Homo sapiens: one gene and its partner. The protein of the gene in region 1 purifies or fractionates together with the protein of each later gene. This does not show direct contact. Each region holds a gene or a part of one and is shown on either strand. Other genes may lie near its edges. The genes, in order: MDM1 and POC1A.

Region 1 (12,741 bases):
CTCCTGACCTCGTGATCCGCCCACCTCGGCCTCCCAAAGTGCTGGGATTACAGGCATGAGCCACCGCGCCTGGCCCATTTCATGAAGTTTTAAGAGGAAATTGAGATGAATGCATGTGTTTGCCCTGGCATTCAGTTACTGTCATTTTACAGAGTTTTAAGAGGGACATCAAGCATGCACACATATGTCTGAACTGGCATTGTATCGGTCAGAGTTAAATTTCAGATAATATAATTTATTCTAGCTTTTCAAAACAGAAAGGGTATTTTCAGGGTATTCAGTAGTGAGGAAGACTAGTATTGCAATACTAGTCTACCAGTTCTTCATTCTTCCTTTACAACGAACGTGACTCTGCCACTCCTTCCGTGAAGGGGTTGAGTCTATTTCCCTAGCCCTTGAATCTGGGATGGCCTTTTAATCTGCTTTGGCTAACAAAATATGGTAGAGGTGATGGTATGCTGTTTCGAAGCCAAGTCCTCAAGAGGCTTCACATACTTTGGAATCCTCCGTACTTTGGATTCCTTTTGGAATCTTTCCTTTTCCATGAAAACAATCCAGGCTATCCTGCTAGAAGATGAGAGCCCAAGTGGAACGATGAGGAGTTGTCCTAGCTGAAGCCATCTGAGACCAGCCAATTTCTAGCTAACCCATCAGCTGGCCACAAATCCACAAGCAGGCTTAGTGGGATTAGCTAAGCTCAACCTACATCAGCAGAACTGGCCAACTGACCCAGAGATTCATAAGCAATAATAAATGGTTATTATTTTAAGTTGCTGCATTTGAGAGTGTTTGTTATGCAGCATTATTGTGGCAACCGACGATTGATACAAGTGGCTTAAAGAATCATTATGAGAGCTGAAGAAGTAGACTCTAGGGCCACATCACAGAACAGACTCACTAAAGGAGCCTACAGTCAGGAAGTCGTGGAACCAAGAATCTGCCTGCTAAGTTGAGACACCTTTGCTACAAGCTCCGACTTCACCTCTGCTATGACCAGGAAGCTGCTGGTAGAGCTGCCAACTCCAGAACTACGCTGCTGTTGCTGCTACTGTCATGATTTACAGCAATGCAAACCTGTGCTCTGCTTTTTTCCCATCTAACTCAGTTTATGCAAGTGCTTCTGATCAGCAGAATGTAAATTATACCCACACTTCAGTTGCAAAGGGGTCTAAGGTCAAAGGGGTTTTTAGTTTTCCAGCTTCTGCAGTAGGAGAAGGAGGTTGGCATGAATTTGGAATGAGTCAGTCTCAGCATCACCACAGCATGATTAACTAAAATACATACGATTCCTGAAACTTATTCCATAGATAGTGCTCAATGATACTAAAACAACATATTTATATATTCAGTGTTTTACATTTGGACATATCATGCTACACTGTCAACCATCATTCATTCAATTAATAGAAGTTGAGAGGTTGAAGGATGAATTGAATAACACGATACTAAGATTTTATACTAATTGCTCCAGCAAAATACATGTAAAAATCTTTTTTTTTTTTTGAGATGGAGTCTCGCTCTGTTGCCCAGGCTGGAGTGCAGTGGTGCGATCTCAGCTCACTGCAATCTCCACCTCCCGGGTTTAAGCAATTCTCCTGCCTCAGCCTCCTGAGTAGCTGGGATTATGGGTGTGCGCCACCACACCCGGAAAATTTTTGTATTTTTAGTAGAGACGGGGTTTCATCTTGTTGGCCAGGCTGGTCTCGAACTCCTGACCTTGTGATCCGCCTGCTTTGGCCTCCCAAAGTGCTGGGATGACAGGCATGAGCCACCGTGCCAGGCCTTAAGAGATAAAAATCTCTTAAGGGAGTCAACAATTATAAGCCACAAAGGAGAGGAAACTGACTTTATGTTCTGAAAAATTTTTGGTCCCTTATTGATACTTCAGATACCATTATCAGTAGAAAGACTGGCGATTTCAGAAAGAATAATAGTAGCAATCTGGACTTAATCTGCAGTTATTTTATTTATTTATTTATTTATTCGAGATGGAGTCTCGCTCTGTCACCCAGGCTGGAGTACAGTGGTGCAATCTCGGCACACTGCAATCTCTGCCTCCTGGGTTCAAGCGGTTCTTCTGCCTCAGCCTCCCGAGTAGCTGAAACTTACAGGCGTGTGCCACCATGCCCGGCTAATTTTTGTATTTTTAGTACAGAAGGGGTTTCACCAAATTGGCCAGGCTGGTCTCAAACTCCTGACCTCATGATCCGCCCGCCTCAGCCTCCCAAAGTGCTGGGATTACAGGTGCATGTACATTACCCGTGATAAAAGAAATATTTCAAAATTTATTTTGGCATAAAGGTAGAGATTTACAAGATTCTTAGAAAGGCTGATCTGACCTTAAGACACAGAATCCGATTTGATGAGATGAGAGAATTCATGCTTTCAAATCAGCAATTAGCAATTCTGGAAAATATCTGCGTCCCTGTGAGGACTTTTCAAAGAGATGGTGATTTAGGACAATAAATAATCAATGAAGAAAAGGAAAGGGAATTCTTAGAACAGAATCATACAGTGAAGGTATTAAAATGAAAGAAATTTTGTGCCCCAAATGTATTCCCTGGACCTTGTGCAGCTGCAGTACAACATTATTATTATGGTATGTGAGGCTTGCCAGTGGTTTATGCCTTACTGAGAATTACTTTACTCAGCCGTGGCCTTGTATGGTGAGGAGTCCTTTCGGCTCACCAAAAAGAGAGAAAAAAAAAAAGTCCTGTTGTCAAGAGAACCTGGAGTCCCTCCAAAAGGTGCCCCACTGATTCAAAAGCCAGACACTCCCTTGTCAACAAAGGCATCTCACGGCTAAAAGTCTGGAGGGCAAATTGCACTTGGCTCATTGCTAAGTCTTAATCATAGAACCTATTTATTCGATTCTTACTGACATTAATGTGAAGTATCAGCAATTTTGCTTCTCAGACAGAATCCATGGATTTAATTGTCATTTTTTTTAGTTGTGCAATCAGAAATTCATTCATAGGAGGAAAAATCAGCTAATACCTATGGAAAAATGCAAAAGAAAGCGGTTGTCAGACTGATTGCTTTTTGGCAAAGGCTGAGCTCAAGATTTACCAATGAAAGCCCAATTAAATGTGACCTGAGAGAATGTTAACAGAGCTAAAGAGCATTACTAAGCCCAAAGACTGGCATTTCAGTTACCTTGTAAGGTATTTCAGAGAAAATTACATATATGTAAACACAAGGCTGTGTATCACTATATTGATAAAATAGTAGTTTCTAAAACAGCTTTACTGATTTCCGAAGCAACAAGAAAAAAAAAGACAACAGAAAGCAAGTAATTCACCTTTTTGGGAACCGATCTTCAGCAATGTTAGTTGAAACTTCTCAAGGAACATCTGGCTTGGATTCAGCTACCCAGGGCAGAACAAAAAAAGTGAAAGGTCTCTAGATCAGGTGTTTCCCAGGATGGAATTTAAATTCAGCTCCTTTATCCTGCCTGCTCTTTAATAGTCTATCTTAGATCAAACTTTCTGGCTCCAGGTTTAAAAGCATCTTTAGAATACCAAGGTGCTCACATTTAGCCCCTTTCTCACTTTCTCCTTTCTTTTTATTTTCTGTGTTCTTTGTGTACTTATTGATCCCCCATTAGAAGATTATAATTATATTTGAAGACAGGGGCTATGTCTTATTCATCTTTGTACCTCCCTTCTTCAACCCTCGTCTGATGTGTTTGCTCATATACACTTTTCTTTTGTTAAATAAAAATAAATATAGTTAGAGGCAAATACAAATTCTTCACTGTTTCAACTGCTACTGAGAAAATGATAGGAGATTATTAATTTGTGAAGTGGTCAACTTCCTTTTTTAATAGAATGAGTAGTAGATGAGAATATTTTATATTTCAAGTGCAAATAAAATTTGCCTCAAAGGATTTTGATATGTTTTTGTCTCTAAAAGGAGCAACAGCCTTATCGTGAGGTATATGTCAAGATAAATCTAGAAAGGGCCAATGGAGTTATTTTATTTAAGGAAAATAGCCTCAGTGGTAACTATCAATAACTTAAAGTTTCCATATCTTACCAGTAAACTGAATAAAATGCTCTTTTCTTTATAGCTGCCGCTAATGGAGTTGGACTCATGAGTGAGGGAGAAAGTGCCTGTGAATGACATCATTATGCGACATCATAGGACAGTTTTTTTTTTCTTTTATTCACTCGTCTTTCTTTTATTTCAACTGATGGTATACCATAAACAGTCTTCTAAGCCTTGCTTCTTTTCTTTGAGAGTCTTCTATGTTAGCTCATAAAGAGGTGCTTCTTGCTTGTTAGGGGTTGTATGGAAGTGTGCAAGTTAATAAGCTGTTGCATGTCAGTTCCAGTCTCACCCTTCAGACTGTGCAAATCACATGGCCAGCTCCCTGTTATGTTTGCCAAGAAAGGAAGCTAGGGAAAGACTGGGATGCTCTGTTTTGTTTGCTGTTCCTCCCCGCAGCACCTGAACAGTGATCTTCTACCCCACAGTGGCAGTTCATTGCAGTCTCCAGCTTGTCTCTTTTCCAGACGTTCCCAGAGAGTCTCATTTTGTCCCCTCAGAGGCACCCCACCAGTGGGGCAGTGGCCCTTTCTCAGCGGTCTGACCAACTCCAGGAGGCCTCTCCTACAAACCTCCGCATTCTAGTAACCTCAACATTTTCCTTTTGTTCTCTCAGCCTTACAGTATGAGCTGCTTCCTGGAGTTCCTCTTCTTTATCCTTTTGGCTTTAAGTTCTTCAATAGCTAATGAACCAATAGCTTATATTAAGTTCTCTTTGTTGAAATGCCTTGTGTAGGGTCTGTTTTCCTAGCTGGACCTAACATATCCATGCAGGATCAGAAGGCCCAAAGGAGCAGAACAACCTGCGCTACTCTTTGAATTTGGATGAACCGTAATGTATTTGACTAGTTCTCTCTAAATGGACATTTAGGTAGTTTTCAACCTTTTGTAACTAGAAACAGTACATTAAACAACTTTAAATGAATATTTTTTTTCACATATGTGTGAGTCTATCTGTAAGATAAATTTATAGAAGAGGAACTCCTGGATCAAATTGCCAAAATGCCCTTCATATAGGTTGTGCAAATTCAGTCTCTCACGAGCAATAGACAGAAATCTATTCCTATGAGAAATAGAGAAATCAACAAAGGGAAGAGTGAGCCAGGTGTGATACCACTGTCCCAGTAAGAGGGCCTTAGCTAGTGGAAGAGAGAAGCATAGCATGAGATCTGTCACTTGAGGAATTACTTTTTGGCTTAGACTCCACGGACTTCATTTTGAGCCCTTTGGCGATGAGAAAGGCTAAAACACAAATGAAAAGAAGGCTCTCTAAGACATAGTGTTACTCACTTCAAAGAGGGTAACGCAAAAAGGAGAGGTGCTTTGCCATAGATTACCACCAATGCCAGGCAGTTTGAGGAGTGGCTGTACCCAGTTGCTGTGCCCAGTGAAGACTCAGTACCAAGCTAAAGTGGCTGTGATAGCCAGCAGCAAGAGTGACACCTACAGATGCATGGCTATTGGAACAAGGGGCAGTGCTGCCCGGCATACGCTATGTGGTTGCTGCGAGCACATGTGAAATACCTCCTAGGGACTCCCCAAAACATGGGTGGAGCTTTGTAGGGTACTGGGTACTGTTTCCTGCAGTAGCAGAGAAGATAAGAGCTGGTAAAACACAGGCTACAAAACTCATTTACTAAGGTAGTCACTTTTTTTTTTCCCATTCCTATATCTTTGCCTCTTAAACTTGGGTAGGCTTTTGTTTAACAATAGCAAAGTAAAATCTTCTTCCTTAAGTCTTTATGATACTTCTCTAGCAAGCCTGGGATGTGACTGAGTTATTTTTACAATCTGCTGTTTGGTTTTCCTGTCATTTACTCCCTGCTCAGCAGAGCTCTTCTGCAGTGATCATTGCGCTTGTTTAGCAGGCAGGCTACATTCTACACACTTGCTTTTGCTGATCTCACCTTAGCATTTTGTGGTAACAAAGCTGTGTGCACAACCAAAGTTGTGCCTTTCTTACTCTGTAAGATGGGCTGCCTTCCTGCAGATGACTTTTGTTCTATGTTCCACTGTGTCTTGTTTGTGCCATTCTTAATTTACACGACAGAGATGCTGTCATCACCAATTAACATTAATCAAGGGCCCCCTGGATGCATGGCTGCATTGGGACTAATTTAATATGCTCTTTGTTCCAGATATCAGGTGGCTTCTTCAAATGATTTTTAAGTATCTCGATGATGATGAAGAACAAAGACATCAATCAGGATTCAGGAAGACAGCTTTTGCGGAAAATGCTTAAAGGGAAGCATCAAGGATTGGTGTTGATATTTGAAAGTTTAAGAGTGGTATACTTTTATTCAGTCAACACATGACAAATGTAAAAGGCACTCATTTGTTGTTCCTGGAAGAAGCCTGGCAGCATTCCATTCAGACATCTGCCCTTTCATCGTCCCACTTTTTACTTATTGCAGTCCTTTCAGTCTGAATATTTCCTCCTGACGCATCTTCTGCCGTCCGAAATGACTCCCTGCTCCCAGATCCTGTAGCCCTTATTATTGACACCTTTCATTTAGAAATTTAGCACATGTCACATTACACCATTATTGAATAAATAATGAATAAATAAATAAATAAAGATGTATGTCCTTCCCAAGTATATCAGAGAACTATCTGGACAATTTCTTTCTTTCCCAATTCTCAGAATCAGCAGTATTCTGTCAAGAAACATTTATCGACGATGATGGCAATAGTCGATTAAAATCAGATGAAGTTTTATTTTTAAAAAAAGGTTGAGCGGAGAGACAAGGCTGAAGGTTTGGAAGTTGAGACAACCATCTTCAATAAACGTTTTCTCATCTAAGGGCTGTATGTACATCATTTTGGGGAAGGTAGAGATTGAAGGAGGAAGAACATCACTGGAGGAAGAGACAGCAGTTTGTCTTTCGAGTTTCAATAAAGTTTCAAAAATCTTGCCTAAGTTATATATTTTTTTGGCCTTTCCCTTTTGATGTGACAATAAACTGTAATGCGGCTGTCGTTTGTACGAACCGATATTCAGCAGAATAAATCTGAGCACTTTCAGAAAAAGAAGCGTTCGGTTTTCTCATAGATGTTAGCATGAAGAACACACTTTGACCTTTGATGCTGTCAAGCACCTGGGCCAGCGAGGCTGGCGGCTGGCGAATTCCACCAGCAAGCAGACGCATTGCTGCGCAGGACCCGGCGAACCAGGGACCGGTCCACCCAACCCAGGAAGGCACCCCCGGGGTCCCGCCCAGCCCGGTTCCGGGAGCCTTATTGGCCGGCCTTCCGCCCGCCATCTCTATCAGCCCCAGGGATTTGGCAAGGGAGGTAGGCGGCTCCCTTTCGGCCACTCATTGGTCAAATCCTAATGGAGGTAAGGCACTCTGCGAGTCTCTATTGGTCCCTAGGCTCCAAAAAGGGCGGGGAAAAACAGACCGACAGGCCTCTAGGCGGGAAGCGCGGAGTGCGCCGGCGCGTAGTCGGGGACGCCGGGCCGAGGCTTTGCTAGGGAACACTGTTATCGCCCCGCCCCCTCGGAGCTTTTTCTCCAGTTAACTGTCGGAGTAGCGGGGGCTCCGGCGCCGGGCGACATGCCGGTGCGCTTCAAGGTGAGGCTGGGGTCCCCGGGCCGGAATGTGGCTGGGGGGAGCCATGGCCGGGGAGGTGTGGAGCGCCGAGGTCACGCTGCTTTTCTGCGCTGCAGCCCTCTGCCCGGCGGAAGCTGCCAGCCCCAGGGCCTGCTCGAGGGGCCCCAGAATCTGCCCGCCGCCTCTTAACCTAGTTCCCTCTCCGCTCACTCACATTTGCAAGCTGCAGTGTGTCGAAGAGTCAGATGGTGCGAGACACATTTACTTAGGGGGACTCAAGAGGAGTGGAGATGGGAGGAGGTCCCTTTGCGAAGAGAACTAAAGGCGACTTCAGATTGGGACACCTGTGGCCCATTTAGCTTAGCATTTAACCCCCATTACCTTTAAAACTTTAGTGTATGTGGCTTTTAAAGGCTTGAGAAATGGGTTCTTAGTAAAGACAGCGTATAAAGAAATACACGTTTTTCATCGTTGTGCATTCTTAGCGTATGTTAAAAGTTCCAGGTAGCTGGTAGCTGTCAGGGACTAGCACCCTGCAACTTCACAGGTGGCCACAGCGTCCCACATCTCCTGACTCATTTATCTTAAAGGCGTGTATTCAGAATGGAAGGGGAGTTTGCCTTTTGTTGACTTTATCAAATAGCAAAAGGTCCTAGGCATGGTACATAATATTGTGTACTCGGTGAAAACCTGCGATAAATCTAGAATGATGAGAATTTAGATTGTCATTAGTTATCCGACAAGAACTCATGCTTTGGAATCAGATAATCAGTGAAAGGGTAACCTCTGAGCCTGGAATTCCTGGTAGCATCTGCCTCAAGTGGTGTTGTGGATTAAAGGATATAACACGTGTGAACTGCTTAGCACAGGGCTGGGTGAATATTAGCTCTTATTAAGGAGCTCGTCTGTGTTTAATTTTCAGTCTTAAGTCTCTTTTGGGAGGTTCAGAAATTATTTTTCACCGATGTCTGCTTTAAAACATCATTCATTAATTGGACTGTACTCAAAAGTGTACTTTGCATTACAGGGGCTGAGTGAATACCAGAGGAACTTCCTGTGGAAAAAGTCTTATTTGTCCGAGTCTTGTAATTCCTCCGTGGGGCGAAAGTACCCATGGGCTGGACTTAGATCAGATCAATTAGGTAAGTTGAGCAGGCTAATAGCCATTCTAACCTGGGCTAAGTTTATAACTTGGGCCAAGCCGTTATAACTTGGGCTAAGTAAACCTTGGGCTAAGTTTACCAAATGATATATTAAAAGTTCAGTTGGCCTGGTTGATTTATTCATTTATTAATCAAGTATTTATTGAAGGTTTACTATGAGCCAGGACTATTCCCAGCAGCTAGTGTGGCAGGCCAGGTTTCACTAATGGAGGCCTCCATCACAACTGTTTCGGTACTGACTGAGCGGTTAAGTTAAATATTGAAAGCTAAAAAAAGCCAGTGCCCTTACACAAAGGCTGGGATGTCACAAAAGCCCATCAAGAGTATTGCCTAGGCCTTTCCTGGGCCATAAAGCATGACAAAATAAGGAATTCTTAACAGGATCCGTTTAGGATTAAACAAGTTTTACTGGGGGTCTGAAGAAACTCCCCAGGCCTCCACAAATTTATTGGCGGTCTGAAGGAACTCCTCAAACCTCCATGATTCAGCAGGAGACAAGATAAGGGTAATCAGCCCAGCACCTAGACCCATTTAGATTAAGTAAATTTACTGATGCTCCAGAAGAAGGTCTTCAGGACTCAGACCTTAGTTATAGATTAAAAGAAGTTAATCACTTATATCCTTAGATGAATGCACACTTACACGTAGACATATAGCTTAGAAGGTATATAAGCTCTGAAAAACTTTGTAATTTGGGGTTCGTCTGGTGATAATTTGCAGGCCTTCTTCCCGTAACTGGTTATAGAAATAAAAACTCTCTTTCTCCCTAGTTTATCTGCATCTCGTTATTGGCCGAGAGAAATAGCAGCCTGACCCTCAGTTTGGTCTGGGAACACTAGGGATATAGCCCTGAACCAAAGTCCCTTAACTGTGGAGAGAAACAGTAAGCAAGTCACTCAATAATTAAGGGAATTTCAGGTTTTTATATAAAATTGTAGGGAAGTGTGATACATAACATGCGGGAGGAGTGGATTGGAGGGAAAATGCTTTAGATTAGATGGTTGGGAAAGGCTCTTTTTGAGGAGGTGATATTTGAGCTGAGACCTGAAAGCTGAGGGGACAATGCTGGGGAAGAGTGCTCCCAAGGTCTTGAGAAATGGAAGCTTAGGGAGATGAGGTCGCTGCCCCAGCTTTACAGCTAGTAAGTGGCAGAACCATGATTTGAAATCAAGTCTGTTTTGTGCAAAGCATGTAATTTCAGAGGTCATGTTCTTGTTATCACACATGCCTCCTCCCTGTGTCCCAGGGAAGGCAGAGTCCTGGGCCAGAGTTTCCCGGAGGGTGATAGAACAGAAGGGAGACAGACTGACCTCATTATACCTGCTTATTTAATTCTTCCTTACTAGTATATTAGATCTCTGAGAGTAGGGCTCTGTCTTATTCACCACCCAGTACCTAACACAGGCCTTGGAACATTCTATTGCTTCTTGAAACTATTTTTTGAATGAATGAATTAGCCTAAATTTGAATTATAATAGCTGTGTGATGTTGGGCAAATTGAGCTAGTTTCACCAAGTGAGATTTTAGGAAGTCTGTTGCATAGGATTACTGGGAGGGTTTAAATGAGATGTTGCCTATTAAGGGCCTGGTTTGAGTACACAGATCAGTGCTTAGTGTCCCACATGTGATGTGTGCGAGCATGGCATGTAAGTCACATAAATGTTAGATGTTTGAAGCCAGGAAAAGACTTATGGGTAGGGTACCAAGCCTGGAAAGTTAGTAAGACGACGAGGTATTTTCAGAATTTGGTCTAGAGAACAAAGGGAAGAGTGGGCAAGAGTGAGTGTCTCTTTTAGAGTTCCTCTGAAGCATCATGATCTGACCCAGCGGCAAACTTCAGAGACTGGGTGTCCCTGCTTCTCCGGCAGGGTGCTAGGAAAATCCCTCTGCTCATAATCCTCTTTTTACAAATGACCAGAAATTCCACATATTTGAACCTCCATTAGATTAAGAATCCAAATAAATCTCTGTTTAAGCATAGATATCCCACCCTGCTGAGCGCCTACAGGGCTATTATGACACTGGAAAATTCATTAAACTGGGTAGTTGTCCAATAACATTTCAGCTTAGATCAGCTGCATTTGAGGGGAAGGTGATGAAATGAGACCATGAGAGCAAAGCCACCTTAGAGCATGGTATATAATGAAGGAAGGAATGGACTAGGGGAGGAACGTTAGTGGGGAATTTTAGGTCATGGGGAGGGACTGAGCAAGAATTCCAGAATGCTCAGAATGGGAGGTGGGAGGTTAGCAAAAAACAACAGCAGTGTTACCGAGGATGGCTGTCCCTTCTTTTAGAGTAGTGTATTTTTACCCTGGGGATTTGCTGGTGCTGGGAGACAGCGGCAGACCACTTGAGAATCTTCTTTCATTTTGTGCTTCTACCAAAAACCTGCCTCTGTGTTAAAGCAGAGAGGAGTCTAATTGGTGATCTTCAAGCTTTTTTGCTTTTATACTTCCTAGAAAAATTTAGAAAAACATTGTGCTTCGTCACACATTTCTAAATTGCTATTTTTTATAATAAATTTTTATGAATAGTTTTGAATGATAGAATTTCTGGTATATTGCATAGTGCTTATATATTTTACATATATTTTGTAAAAACTCTGGAGTTGCCAATTTAGCCCATTCAATTTTTGGAAAATGTTTATCATACAATTGGCAAAGTCAGTATTCATTGGCAAACTAACCGGCCAAATTAGAATTATTTTCTGTGAGAAAGTCTGTTTATCTTTAATTAAGGTAAATGTGTTATATGCATATGTACATTTCACATGACATCCCTCTCATATCTGAATTTTAATACTGAGAAGGTAGATGGAAAATCCATGGAGCTATATGAAATAAGATGCTGTTGCTTTGTTATTTCTAATCTCTGCCTGCTTTGTTTTGCTGTCAAATATTCTCCCTCAGGGATATGCTTTCTTGAATTGTCCCTTTGTTTGGCTCCCTACCCCTGAGGTTTTGTTCTACCTTGGGCGGACGCACTGGAGTAAGTTTCAGGCTGGTTAAGAGGTGTGTCTTTCTTCTCTAAAGTGGGAAAAAGGAGATTATGAAAGGGGCGGTGGGAAATGGAACTGCAGATGGCAGATGCAGCTCTCAGGCAGATATATCAGCATCAGGCAAGAGAGCACATGTGGAGTTGAGGATCTGGAAAATGATTCCCTTAAGCTGCCCACTTCTGTTTACCCTCCTAAAACATCTTTGTGTGCCTCCAGACAGATATCCACCCAGTGAGAAGACCTGTGGTCTAGGGAAGCCTTTTAAAAGGATAAGGACCCGGGGTGACATGGCCAAGACATCTACAACAGAGGCTAAGGAGCCCTGGGTTTTACCTCATGCCCAATTTTCTTTCCACCTTCCCTTTCCATTCTGGTCTTAATCTTCCTTCTGCACCCTGCAACTGTCTTAAAGAATGGCCCTAAACTAGGGCAGTCTCTCAGTGGCTGTCATTCTGCAGAGCTGCTCTTACCTTCATAGAAGGTTAAGTTTTTGGACATTTGCTTTCCATACAGAAATATAGAGAAATTGTATCTTAGCTGTTGTTAAAAGGGCTTATTCTTTTTTAATTCTCAGGAAATCAAGGCAGATGTAGAACCAAGATCCAGCACAGTGACATCTCATCCCTTCTCATCTTGGTCTGCTCCACATAAGAGAAGCTTTGTGAAAAGTTCCAAATTTTGACAGTACCAGGGCCCATTGTTCTGTTAAGTAGCACAGGAAAGTAATTAGAAACGAGGCAGCATGTACTGCCTGGCCTGCCAGGTCTATCACGTTGCAATTCTAGTGACTTTTGTTAGGATAACTGGAACATTTTGTGACCCCCTGATTTTTAATTTTTTGTTATGGTCAAATTTTTAATGCTTTTAAAAGCAAAATTAAATATTTTATGTTGAAAAGCTGTACTTTTAAAATCCTATAATCTGAAGGATATTGTGTGTATATATAGGTACATATATCTGAACTAAATTTAAA
Region 2 (11,782 bases), on another chromosome or scaffold:
CAGGTGGCAGGGGCCAGCCACAAGAACCTGTTCCCCCACCCCACCCCCCTCCATAGGAAGCCCTGAGGTTTGTTACCAATGCTCTTTCAGACAGAGGCTTCTGGAACAGAAGAGCAGTGGGGCTTGCCTCCACTTGGAGCCCATATCTTTCCTATCCTTCCTTCAGCCTTCTGCTCTGGGCCAGGCCTGAGTGAAGGGCTGGGGCTTGGGGATGGGGCACATCTGCCCAGCTGCCTGGGGAACGTGGGCAGGTGCAGAGGAGGGAGGACTTGGACAGGGAGAGATGGGAGTGGAAGGCGACGAGGCAGGACAGTGGTCAGGAGCACATGCTGTGGTTCCTTTCTGTAAAGGGGGTGGCAATAGGCCTTCCTCATGGCTTTGTGAGGCTCTGATGGGAAAAGCCACAAAAGGGTTATAACACAGGGCTAGGTATGTGGTTTGTGCTACATAAGTCCTGACACTGGGCAGAGAGGATGTCTAGGTGACCCTGGGAGGGTCCAGACCCATCTCTGATGGATCAGGAGCCTGGGCCTGGTGTTCATGGGTATAACAGCAGGTACCCCTTGGGAAGGGCCTTGGATGCCATCTCTGGCTCGGGGTCCCAAAGATGTGGCCTGATTGGCAGTGCTAGGACTAGCCTCGTCATTTAAGGTATGAAGGGAAGAAGGACATCTGAGAGGATAGCGGTGTCCAGAGCCTGCTGGGGTTGGGGGCTGGTGTGCCCCATGTGTCCCAGTGATGGGTAGGTGTCCAGCTGTGCCTGGTATCAAAGTAGGGGCTGGCATCAGAGTGGGGGATGGGTTGCAGAGGTTGAGTAGAAGCAGAGAAGCTGACCCTGTTGGGGTGGAGGGGCCAGCTGGACCCAGGGATCTGGGATGTGAGAATGGCTGAGGTCACATTCTGAGCCCCTATAATTGAGGGGCCACAGAAGATAAAGGTCCACAAAGCAGCCAGAGTGAGAGGTATGAACCCCGTCTCCAAGCATGGGAGAGCTGAGGAGGGCAGAGGCTGGGGAGTGAAGGAGAGTGGGGTCTTGTGAAGAGGGTTGTCAGGAGGTGGAGCAATGCAGAGCAGCCGAGGAGAGCGGTGGGTACTGGGGAGAGGGAGCTGGGGACCTGGAGGGAGCAGGCTTGGCAGAGGGCAGGGGCGGATCTCCATGATGGCAGGGTTGGGGAGGTGTGGATGGACTCAGATGAGCTCCAGGGGCTGAGTCCTGAGTGGAGCTGAGTGTGTGGGCTGACAGGCCCTGCTGGGAGATTGCAGTCTGCTTGTGCTTCTGGCCTTGCCTCTTATGACAGCCTCTCAGTGGGCCTGCAGTGTCTCATCCCTAAGCCACCCCTAGTGTAGATTGGAGGCTTAGCAGGATTTGGAGTACCCCATAAACACAGCCGGTTCCCCCTGAGCTCCCTGCTCAATGCCGTGGCCAGTGGTGGGTGTTCACAGGATAGCGGAGTCATCCCATAGCCTCTAGGCTGACCCTTAGGGGTGCAGTGAGCCAGGTTGATCTGAGCTCCCTGGGTAGGGGGAACATACCTCTCATCCTCTGCTGACGGGAGGACATGGCCAGGTCTGCTCTGGTCTTGGGGCTCCCCAGAAAACCTTTAGCTGAAACTAGGGGGAAACCCTCTACCCAAGTGGCTCCCCCACCCCCATAGGTGCAGTGGAATCTCTTTGGAGGCTCATTCCCCAGGAAGGGCTCCCAGTACTCTGGCAACAGATGCCTGATCCGCTTTCTGTCCCTGATCCCTAGGAAACCCAAGGGAAACCTACGGACACAGTGACGTGCAGTGTCTCCCCTAGTGACTCTGGATGGGCATCAGGCACTTCCAGAATGGCCTTCGGGTGTTGGACGCTGATGGGCTCTTGTGAGAGGATTTGGTTAATGATACTGCAGTGTGTGGCTAGCAAGCCCCAGCCTGCCTGCATCCAGCCGTCCATAGTTGTGCTCTATGAGGGCACTTCCTGTTCCTGCTAGGGTTGTTGGAGTTGAAGCCCACTTGGGGCTTTGGGCTATGGAGGCAGCTGGAGCCATTTGTCTTGCGCTGGCTGACTCTCCTAGGTAAGGAGTTTCTTGGCTCTGGCCTATCACTGCAGAGAGCAGTTCTGATTTCTCAATTCAGCAAGGATTTGGGCTGGTGGAGCCCTGGGAGTGCCAATCCCTGTGGTGGTGGGTTAGCTCCATATGCTCTGAGCCCACGTTAAGACTGTTCAGGCATCTGAGCAGCAGCCCCCATCCCAGAACCTGTAATGTGCTTCGTGCCTTACAGCACGTGCAGGTCCATTATCCAGTGACAGGCCTGGGTGGCCAGCAAAGTAGGTCTACCCTCCATTTCACAGATGCGGAGCATGCAGCCCACAGTCACACAGCTAGAAAGCTATGGGTCTGAGTCTCCACCTCAGGGCCTTTGAGTCTGGCATTCTGTTGACAGGCTCACGCTCGGTTCCTTGCACTTCGGTGACTCTAGTCATTTACTCTTCAGGCTCCCTGGGAGAGGTGGTCTCTTTGGCTGGCTGTCAGCAGGGCTTAGAACTCATAGAGTCCCAAGCTCTCTGTCCGATGGTCTTTAGTGCAGCCCTGCACCCCCGCCTGGCCTGATACATTGTCATGGAGGGTTTTGTCTTTTTTTTTTTCTCTTTCAGAGATGGGGTTGGGGTCTCACTGTATTTCCCAGGCTGGTCTTGAACTCCTGAGCTCAAGCAGTCCTCCCACCTCGGCCTCCCAAAGTGCTGGGATTACAGGCGTGAGTCACCATGCCCGGCCGGAGGGTTTTAAGTAGTTGCAGCTATCAGGGCAGGCCTGTACCCTGTACTGGGTGTTTTGAGACTAAAAGGGTTGATTGGGGTACAGTGGTGCTGTCCCACCTGATCTAGCCAACCTACTCTCCCACTGTCCTGAAGTGAGCATTTACACGGCATTTACACAGAGGAGTGTTTTGGGTGTCCTTTGCTGCTGGTATCAGAGCACTTTTGTGGTATGAATCCAAAGCCTCTTGTCAACCCAGAGCCACCGTGTCACTAGTAACATCAGTTGCGCATCGCAAGAGACCACCCTGGGGAAAATGAGCGGTCCTTTTGTGGAAGGATGTTGGGATGGGGCTTGGCCCTGGCATGGTCTCCTCTAGAGAGGAACCTCCTGCTTGGGCACCCAGGCTTTCTCTGGGCCCTTGGCTGGTTTGCAGCCCGTTAGGTAGTGGGCCTAGGTTTGCCCAAGCCTCTACAGGCAGAGCAGCATGGAGTGGGTGTACTCAGGTCTCTGCTTAGACCACCTACTGCCCACAAGCCATGACTAGTTCTTGGTATTTGGGAGCAGGGGCTGTGGTGGCCTCATCCCTGGGTCCCTGAGGATCTGTAGAAGTTTGATGTTGGTGTATCTTTGACCTGGAGTCAGAGTTCTCTCTTTGGAGTGGAGATGGGATAAGAGCCACAAGCTCACAGCTGCCACCCAGGTGGCAGTATGTGTCATCACTGATATCTGCCATGGAGCCAAGAAGAGGCCTGCGGCTTTGGACTTGAAAAAAAGTGGATCATGCTCAGACATTTGGCGCTCAAGGCATCATGATAGAAGGCTCATGCCCTCATGGGACAGCCTAGCCTTCGTGGTAGACTCTCATGCAGGGGTGGTTCTTACGATGAGGCCTCCATAGACTACCCGCTCCCCACCACCTCCACAGAGGCAAGAGGAGTGAGAGTGGAGGCTGGTGCGGCCAGTAGGTGAGGCAGGAGAGCAAGTGGGGAAAGGTGGGGTGGGTCCTGGTGTCTGGGGTATCCCCCAAAGCCTGGTATGCCAGGCCAGCCCCTCTTCTGGAGTAAATGGTTCTAGGTGTTTCTATCCAGGCTTGGGTATTCCTGGCATTTATGTGGAGTGGAGATTCTGTTGCCCTTCTTCTGGGAGAGATTCTTTCCCTTGGATGGGCTTGACCAGGTGGGGGCCCCTGGTGTGGCATCCATACACTGACCCTGCCACCTTGATGGTGCTGGGAAGCCCAGAGCTCCCTGAGCATGCCCTCCCTTCTGCACCCTCCTGCCACCGGCTGTTCCTCTGGCAGCTTCTGCTCATGGAGGGGTGGAGGTGGCCTTCATCCCAGTGCAGACTTTCTGGTGGGGGGGTCTCTGAATTCTGCCTCCAAGAGCTGGCTTCAGAGACCCCACTGGTCCCTCTCCAGCCTGCCTCCTGGAGATCCTGGCGCTTGGAGGGTGTTGTTGAGATATAAATATCATGTTACGTAAAGCCTTGGCTGTTTCCCCCTAAGTGTGCCTGGGAACACGTATCCAGACTCCCCGGCACATCGGCACATCAGCTGGGCTGGCATCTGAGGGACTGCGTGCACCCTGTGGGCCTTGTTGAGGGCCGTTTCGTGTTGGGTGTGTTTACCAACCCAGTAGTGGTTCTTACAGCCTTTCAGTGCTAAGATGACGGTTGGTTTTGAATCTGCCTTTATGTTGGTGGCAATTCTGACTTGGCAGGGTCATGGTTATTTTAGCCCCACTGGTTTTCCTCATTGGGCCTCTGGTAATGGGAAGAAAGACACTGGGGTTTTCCTCAGAAGGCACCCTAGGAGGCTGTGATACAGCTGATCCATGCATTGGCTGTGGAGTTGCTCTGTCCCCACGTAGACTGCCCAGGTGTGCCCCCAGCTTCACCTAGAACATGCTCTTGACCTTGAGGGAGAGTTGTGTAACCTGCTGGGGCTTCTGGATACCCAGCTTAAGCACCTGCTCACCAACCACTTTCTGAGTCCTGCTCGGTGCCAGGGACTTACCACCCCTGCCTGATGGAGTTCATGGTCTCATGGGAGATCCAGATGTGAGTCAGATAGTTGCATGTGAATGTGAAGAGTGAACCGATGGGAGGCTTGTGCTGCTTTGGAAGGACAAATGAAGGGGGTGGCCCTAATTGGGAGGCCAGGGGAGGCTTCCTGGAGAAGGCAGCTTCCAGTAATGAGCTTTAAGGTCAGGGAAAGGGAAGGGCAAGAGTCTCCCAGGCCCATTGGAAACAAGGGGTAAAAAAGTTCTACGGCTGGGGGAATCGACAGAGCTGGGGTGGCCGGCTCTTGGAGAGTGAGGGACACCAGAAAAGATGGTGGGGTTAGCCTGAGATGGTAGGGAAAAGAGAGTCATGGACAGGGCCAAGCTGTTGAGTGGGTGAAGTGGCAGGACCTTGAGTTGCATGGAACACAGGGGGCAAAGGAGAGGAACATCCATGTTGGCATTGGATGGCTCACTCTGCAAAGACCTCATGTGCTTAACTTAGTAGCATCCGCACAGTACCTCTTACACATAGGTGCTATGGTACAGATGGAGAAACTGAGGCTCAATGTGGTTAAGATGCTTGCTCAGGATGGATGTGGTGGCTCACGGCTGTAATCTCAGCACCTTGAGAGGCCGAGGCAGGTGGATCATCTGAGGTCAGGAGTTTGAGACCAGCCTGGTTAACATGGTGAAACCCCATCTCTACTAAAAATACAAAAATCAGCTGGACGTAGTGGCACACCTGTAGTCTCAGCTACTCAGGAGGCTGAGGCAGGAGAATCTCTTGAACCCAGGAGACGGAGGCTGCAGTGAGCTGAGGTCGCACCACTGCACTCCAGTCTGGGCGACAGAGTGAGACTCTGTCTCTCAAAAAACGTCATGGGGTGAGCCCAGGCAGGAGGCTTGGGGTCCGAATGCAGGCCTGACTGCTTCCTAAGAGTGTCTTAGCTTTCTGCTCGTCTGCCCCCACACACGTCCTTCCTGTGTGGCAGTGGCATTGTATTGACATTTGAAGGGTTTTGTTTTCCATTGGTTTCTTTAAAGAAAGAGTATATCGGGCAGACCAAAGGCTATGTTTGTATGTTTGAGTACTCTATTCTGCTCCAGCTTGACCGCTTGGTGCTGTGGGAGAGGATGGAGGAATCGTCTGCTGCCTCTGGTTTTTGCATCTGTTTCTGTCCGCCTGTCTTCCACTGCCTGCCCTTGGCTCTGAACAGGCCTTTTCCTGTTCTTCGATTGTGCCCCTCTCCTGGGAAATCCTTGTTGGGTTCCCCACAGCTCTTCTGAGCAATGACCATCCTGACCCAGCCCCATCAGGCCTGTGCTGAGCCTCGATTGGCCCTGATTGCCCGTCTTGGGCTTCAGCTGTGCTCCCTGTGCCTCCTAGCCAGCACCTGACTGATGTCCTTCCCCCAGTGCACAGTGCAGCAGTGAACGGGCTCTCTTTCCACCCGTCGGGAAACTACCTGATCACAGCCTCCAGTGACTCAACCCTGAAGATCCTGGACCTGATGGAGGGCCGGCTGCTCTACACACTCCACGGGCATCAGGTGAGAGGTGTCGGCCAGGTGCTGAGTGGTGTGGAGTGGTGGTACCTTCACTGTCTGGGCAGTGGGCAAGATGCAGAAACAGGCTTGTCACCCACACAGCCTGCAGGGAGATGGATGGAGGCATTTCCATGTGACCTGGGCAGATTGCTGGGCCTGGGACTGGTGCAGCTGAGAAGGGTATATAAGAGTTGAATTGGGCAAGGGTTGGGGGCTGCATCTGGGCATGGTTAGCAAGCCGCCCCTTAGGGGCCTGAATGGAATCTGTCCCCTAATGGCCTCAGCCATCCCTTGGTCCAGAGGTTGAGTTGAGCCTTGGAACCCATGCTCTGAGTTGACATCAGGGTTTCCTGGAGGCCCTCGGACTGGCAGACATCAGTGTGTCTAGAGACTGAGGCAACCTCAGGTGTCTTGCAGAGGCTGGGACAAAGAAGGGAAGTCTTCTTCATGTTTGTCGTTTGAGAATTCCTGGAATGGAATCAAGGAAGCAAAGGCCTCCTTTCTGAATGAGCTTCAAAGCAGCCGGTTCCCTGGTCTCCCTGGGTGGGCTGGGTCCCTGGGGGCCGGCTGTGGGAAGTAGGCCACATGCAGTTCTCCCCAGGAACTGGCCTGGGTCCGGGCCTTTCACATCTAGTACTTCCACTAGGAAGTAGTGTCCGAGCCCTCCTGATCAGAGCGGTCGTCAGAATGTCTCCTGTTGGGGCGTAGTCACCATGCCCACTTGAGATGGGAGGTCTGGAGTCCATTGAATTCAAGTCTGTCTCTAATCTGCCTGCCATGCTGAGGGAGGCCCTGGGGGTGCTTATGTGTCTTGGACTATCAGCTAAGTCTGAGGTGTCTAGCCTGGTGTTTTCTGAGCTGTTGTTTGGGTTTCCACTGCCATCTGAGTTAGGGTACCTGGGGGCCATTTGGCTATGACTAGGGGATGGGGACATAGGCCTTTTCTTCTACTTCCTCAAGGTCTGGAGGCTGCTTGCTGCCCCCAGCCTTGTTGTGACCCCTTGCCTTCCCTGTCAGAGACATATCCAGTGTGCAGGACTAGTGGGCCTGTTCTCCCTGGGCCAGCACATCCAGAGGGGGTGGCTGCTGGCCCTGGTGTAAGCCTGTTCACAAGCCAAGCCCCTGGACAAGCAAGTTATACAGATTCATGTGTAACCGTTTGGGATCTTATGCCCAGGAGGGCATTTGAAAATCATGTGAATGCTGCTACCGCTCCTGCTCCCCTAAAAAAAACAAAACAAAACTCAGAAACAGTTTGAAACAGATGCCTATCAAGTGATCACCTCTTTTTGTGAGTGTTCTTTAAACAGCTAACTCACGCTTAGCCTGAAAACACTTGAATGTGGGATCTAAAATGTCATTCCCGGTGTTCTGGCATCGCATCTGGCACATAAACGAAAGCTATTGACATTGTTCTCTCCGGGAAGTGAAGCAAGGACCATGGCGCATTGCCTTGTGTGGTCACTTGTCTGCTATTAAATCTAGAGATATGGGAACCAGGCCAAGGGACAGCTGATGGTTTGGGGTGTGGATAGGGCTGGGTCATTTCTTCTTCAGGGCACCAGGCTCACAATGCCCAGAGGAAAGGAGAAGAAGAGAAACGAACCAACGACCTCTGTTCATTTTGCCATCTGTCTGTTTGTTCATTCATCATCGGCTCTCTAGCTCACGGGGCTGGGCACCAGGGATAGGAAATGGATGTTATAGCTCTACTTCCTGGGCTTCCTGGCCTGGGAAGAGGGGGACTCCACAGGGAGGCTGACAGAGCTGAAGGCAGCATGAGACGAGTTAGGCTGGCTGAGAGGTAGACTGAGTCTTAGAGAGTACTTGGAGGGCAGGTGAAGGTGGGTAGGCCCTGCCCATCTCCCAGGGTACAGCTCAGATGAAGGTGGGAGTCAGCGTGTGAGGCTCAAATTATTTTCTTCTCCCAGCCCCCTAAACTCCCTATCAAATACAGGAACTTAGGATTGATTTACCACAAGTTTTAAGGGTTCTTTGTCCTGGGATACCGACGACACCCAGCCCCTCTGTGGGGTACTCCAGGTATCCAGGTGTAGGAACCCCTGGGCCTGGCTTGCTCAGGGTTCTGCAAACTGATTCAGGAAGACAAATTGCCCAGGGTCACCCTCTTTCCCCACCTCTGCACTTACTTTAATCCTTGCTCCTTTCTAGAGGCTGATTCTCTCCCATCCCTCCTCTTTAAGACCCATGGTGAGACCAACCATGCACTCCAACTGGTGGTGGCAAGTCAATACCGGGTTCTACAGCTGGCCTGGGTTGAAAGGTCCCGATGTGGACAAACCTGGCCTGATTCCTGCGCCCCTCCCACCTGCACTGTGGGGTTGCTGCCTTGAGAGGGCTTTCTTTTGGGGTCCTTACTAATGATGTGCAGCAGCATGATTGAAGAGCCAGGCTGAGGGCTGAGGTAGGGGTGTGAGTGTGTGAGTACGTATGGGGCAGGGATGCCCAGGAGAAGGCCTTACTTACTTCCAGCAAAGACCAGCTCACCTCCATACCACAGCCTGGCACCCCTGGGACCCAGGTCTGCCAGCGTTTGCTGTGGCTCCTTGTCATGCTTAGCTCTGCCCCTGGATTTGGAGTGATTCAGAATCAGCTAATGGGCCAGGTGTGGTAGCTCACTCCTGTCATCCCAGCACTTTCGGGGGAGGCTGAAGTGGGAAGATTGCTTGAGCCTGGGAAGCTGGGGCTGCAGTGATCTGTGATTGTGCCACTGTACTCCAGCCTGGGTGACAAAGCAAGACACTGTCTCAAAACAGAAAACCCCCCAAAAAACAGATTCAGCTAATGTTGGCTTCCCAAGGGAGCATAGTGCAATCGAGGAGCCTTAATTTGGGCATTTGGTTAAGATACGGGGTCCACTGGCTGGACAGAATACCTAGTGCTTATGGAGATCTGTGGCTAGGATCAGAGGTGGCTTTGCTCCAGCTGGGGGTAGAAATCCGTAGGGGCTGGGCCTGTGTTGTCACCCAACTGGTTCCGAGGATGTTCATTACTGATGAGGGCCTGGCTGGAGGCCACATCACAGGGGCCTGCTGACAAAGGGGCTGGGTTCTGCCTGGGCACTCTGCAGCAGGTATAGAGTCCTCATGGGCTCCCACTCACTCAGACCTTCGAGGAAGATGTGCAGCTGGTTCTTTGGTGACTTCATCTTTCACATTCTGTTCTGGGAGGTGGCGATGTGGTGGGGTCCTGGTGGCCAAGGGCCTGATGGAGCGCAGCTGCTATCAGCCACTTCCTGAATTGTGTGGCTGAGCAGCCTGGGGCTCCTGAGTGGGTCTTGGGTGCCTGGGGCTTCTGTCCTATGGATAAGGAGGATGGCAGATTGGAAAGCATTTTTTTTTTTTTTTTTTGAGTCCAGGTGGTGAAAATGAGAGCAGTCTGGATTAGTAGGGGGTCTTATGACTTCTAGTGTGCCAGAGCTGGGACAAGTACCTGTGTCTATGCAGTTTCTATCACATGTACATGTGACTTTTAAAATTCTATTTGTAATTTCACTCTTGTTTCTTTCATTCATTCATTCAGAGACAGTTTCGCCCTGTCGCCCAGGCTGGAGTGCAGTGGTGCGATCTCAGCTCACTGCAACCTCCATCTCCTGGGTTCAAGCGATTCTCCTGCCTCAGCCTCCCTAGTAGCTGGGATTACAGGCACCCGCCACCACACCCGGCTAATTTTTGTATTTTTAGTAGAGACGGGGTTTCACCGTGTTGGCCAGGCTGGTCTCAAACTCCTGACCTCAGGTGATCCACCTGCCTCAGCCTCCCAAAGTGCTGGAATTAGAGGCCTGAGCCACTGCATCCAGCCTTCTTGTTTTTATTTACTTATTTATCTTTACTGGGGTAACATATGTGTATAATTCACCATCTTTACCATTTTTAAATGTACAGTTCAGTGGTAATAAATACATTTATATTCTCTTTTTTTTAACCCCTTCATTCCCTGGCTCCCCTTCCCCATCCCAGCCCTGGTAACCACCACTCTACTCCATCTTCATGAGATCCATGTAACTCCCACGGATGTCACTCTTGTGTTTAGCTCACAGGTCTAGGTAGGGTACCAGCAGGCTTATGTCGGCTTGTGTCCCCATCTTGCTGCTACATGACCCCATTCTGATCCAACAGAAGGGAGCCCCATGAAACTTTGGTTTGGACGCAGGGGACCTGCTGTGTCCTCAGAGATGGCTTGGGAGAGCTGCGAGAGAGAGGGCTACTGCATCTTAGGGCCAGTGGGACAGCTTCCATTTCTGCATCTGAGAAGTGGACAGTGCAGGCTGGGGGTGAGCAGCAGTGAGGTCAGCCACAGGGAGCTGCTGTGGGATGAGGCAGACCTTGACCTGGGCATGGGGGCTCTGCGGGTGCCAGGAGAAGGGCCCCAGCAAGCCCTCTGGGGAAACCGTGGGGGAGGTTTGGGGTAGAAAAAGGAGGGTCAGGGTGCAGTGCTGTTGGGCTGCAACTCTATTGTCTGAGTTGAGGCCAAACTCACCCTGATTTACCTTTCAGTTGTCTCCTAAGGTACAAGGAGCGCCAGGACAGAGGGACTTGCCAAGTGCCAGCTAAGATGAGTATCACCCAGTGTAGCCCTGGGTCTCCTGGGCTGGACCTGTGTGCTGGTGTTGAGGGCAGGTTATCAGCCAGGAGTCAGCGTGCGGGTGGTTTGGTAGCTCTCTGGCACATGAGTGGCACACATCGGCCCATTTGAGAGGCCTTTTGTTTGCGCAGGCTCATTTTGTGAGAGTAAGGGGTTATCTTAGTCTGTTCTGTGCTGTTGTAATAAAATACCGGAGACTGGGTAACTTATCAAGAACAGAAAGTTATTTCTCAGTTCCAGATGCTGGAAGTCCCAGATCAAGGTACTAGCGTTGGGGAAGGCTGCCCTCTGCTTCCGAGATGGGGCTTGAATGCTGCATCCTCTGAGGGGAGTAACACTGTCCTCACATGCAGAAGGTGGAAGGGCGGAAAGGACCAAACTCCCTTTGTCAAGCCCTTTCATAAGTGCACCTAATCCCCTTCATGAGGGCGGAGCCCTTGTGACTCAATCACTTCCCAAAGGCCACACCTCCCAACACTGTTACCTTGGGGATTCAATTTCTTTCTTTCTTTTTTTTTTTTGAGATGGAGTCTCACTCTGTTGCCCAGGCTGGAGTGCAGTGGCGTGAACTCGGCTCACTGCAACCTCCGTCTCCCAGGTTCAAACAATCCTCCCACCTCAGCCTCCCGAGTAGTTGGGATTACACGTGCACGCCACCATGCCCGGCTAATTTTTTGCGTTTTTAGTAGAGACAGGGTTTCACCATGTTGGCCAGGCTGGTCTCGAACTCCTGACCTCAAGTGATCTGCCTTCCTTGGTCTCCCAAAGTGCTGGGATTACAGGCGTGAGCCACCACGCCTGGCTGGGGATTCAATTTCAGTATCAATTTTGTTGGGGACAAAAACATTCACACCATAGCAGGGGTGGATGTTGGTTACAAG

Evidence for each region.
Region 2: the proteins of MDM1 (region 1) and POC1A purify together in Homo sapiens (affinity purification with mass spectrometry; 2 studies listed by BioGRID and IntAct, with this or other methods). This does not show direct contact.

Annotation. Positions count from the first base shown.
Region 1 is NC_000012.12:68,327,112-68,339,852, reverse strand, and holds the start of MDM1 (nuclear protein MDM1), read left to right. Parts: upstream 1-7,490; 5' UTR 7,491-7,607; coding exon 7,608-7,625; exon of another isoform or gene 7,626-7,849; coding exon of another isoform or gene 7,850-7,852; intron 7,853-8,631; coding exon 8,632-8,746; intron 8,747-12,342; coding exon of another isoform or gene 12,343-12,419; exon of another isoform or gene 12,420-12,741. UniProt on the Homo sapiens protein: Microtubule-binding protein that negatively regulates centriole duplication. Binds to and stabilizes microtubules.
Region 2 is NC_000003.12:52,132,686-52,144,467, reverse strand, and holds part of POC1A (POC1 centriolar protein homolog A), read left to right. Parts: intron 1-6,165; coding exon 6,166-6,299; intron 6,300-11,782.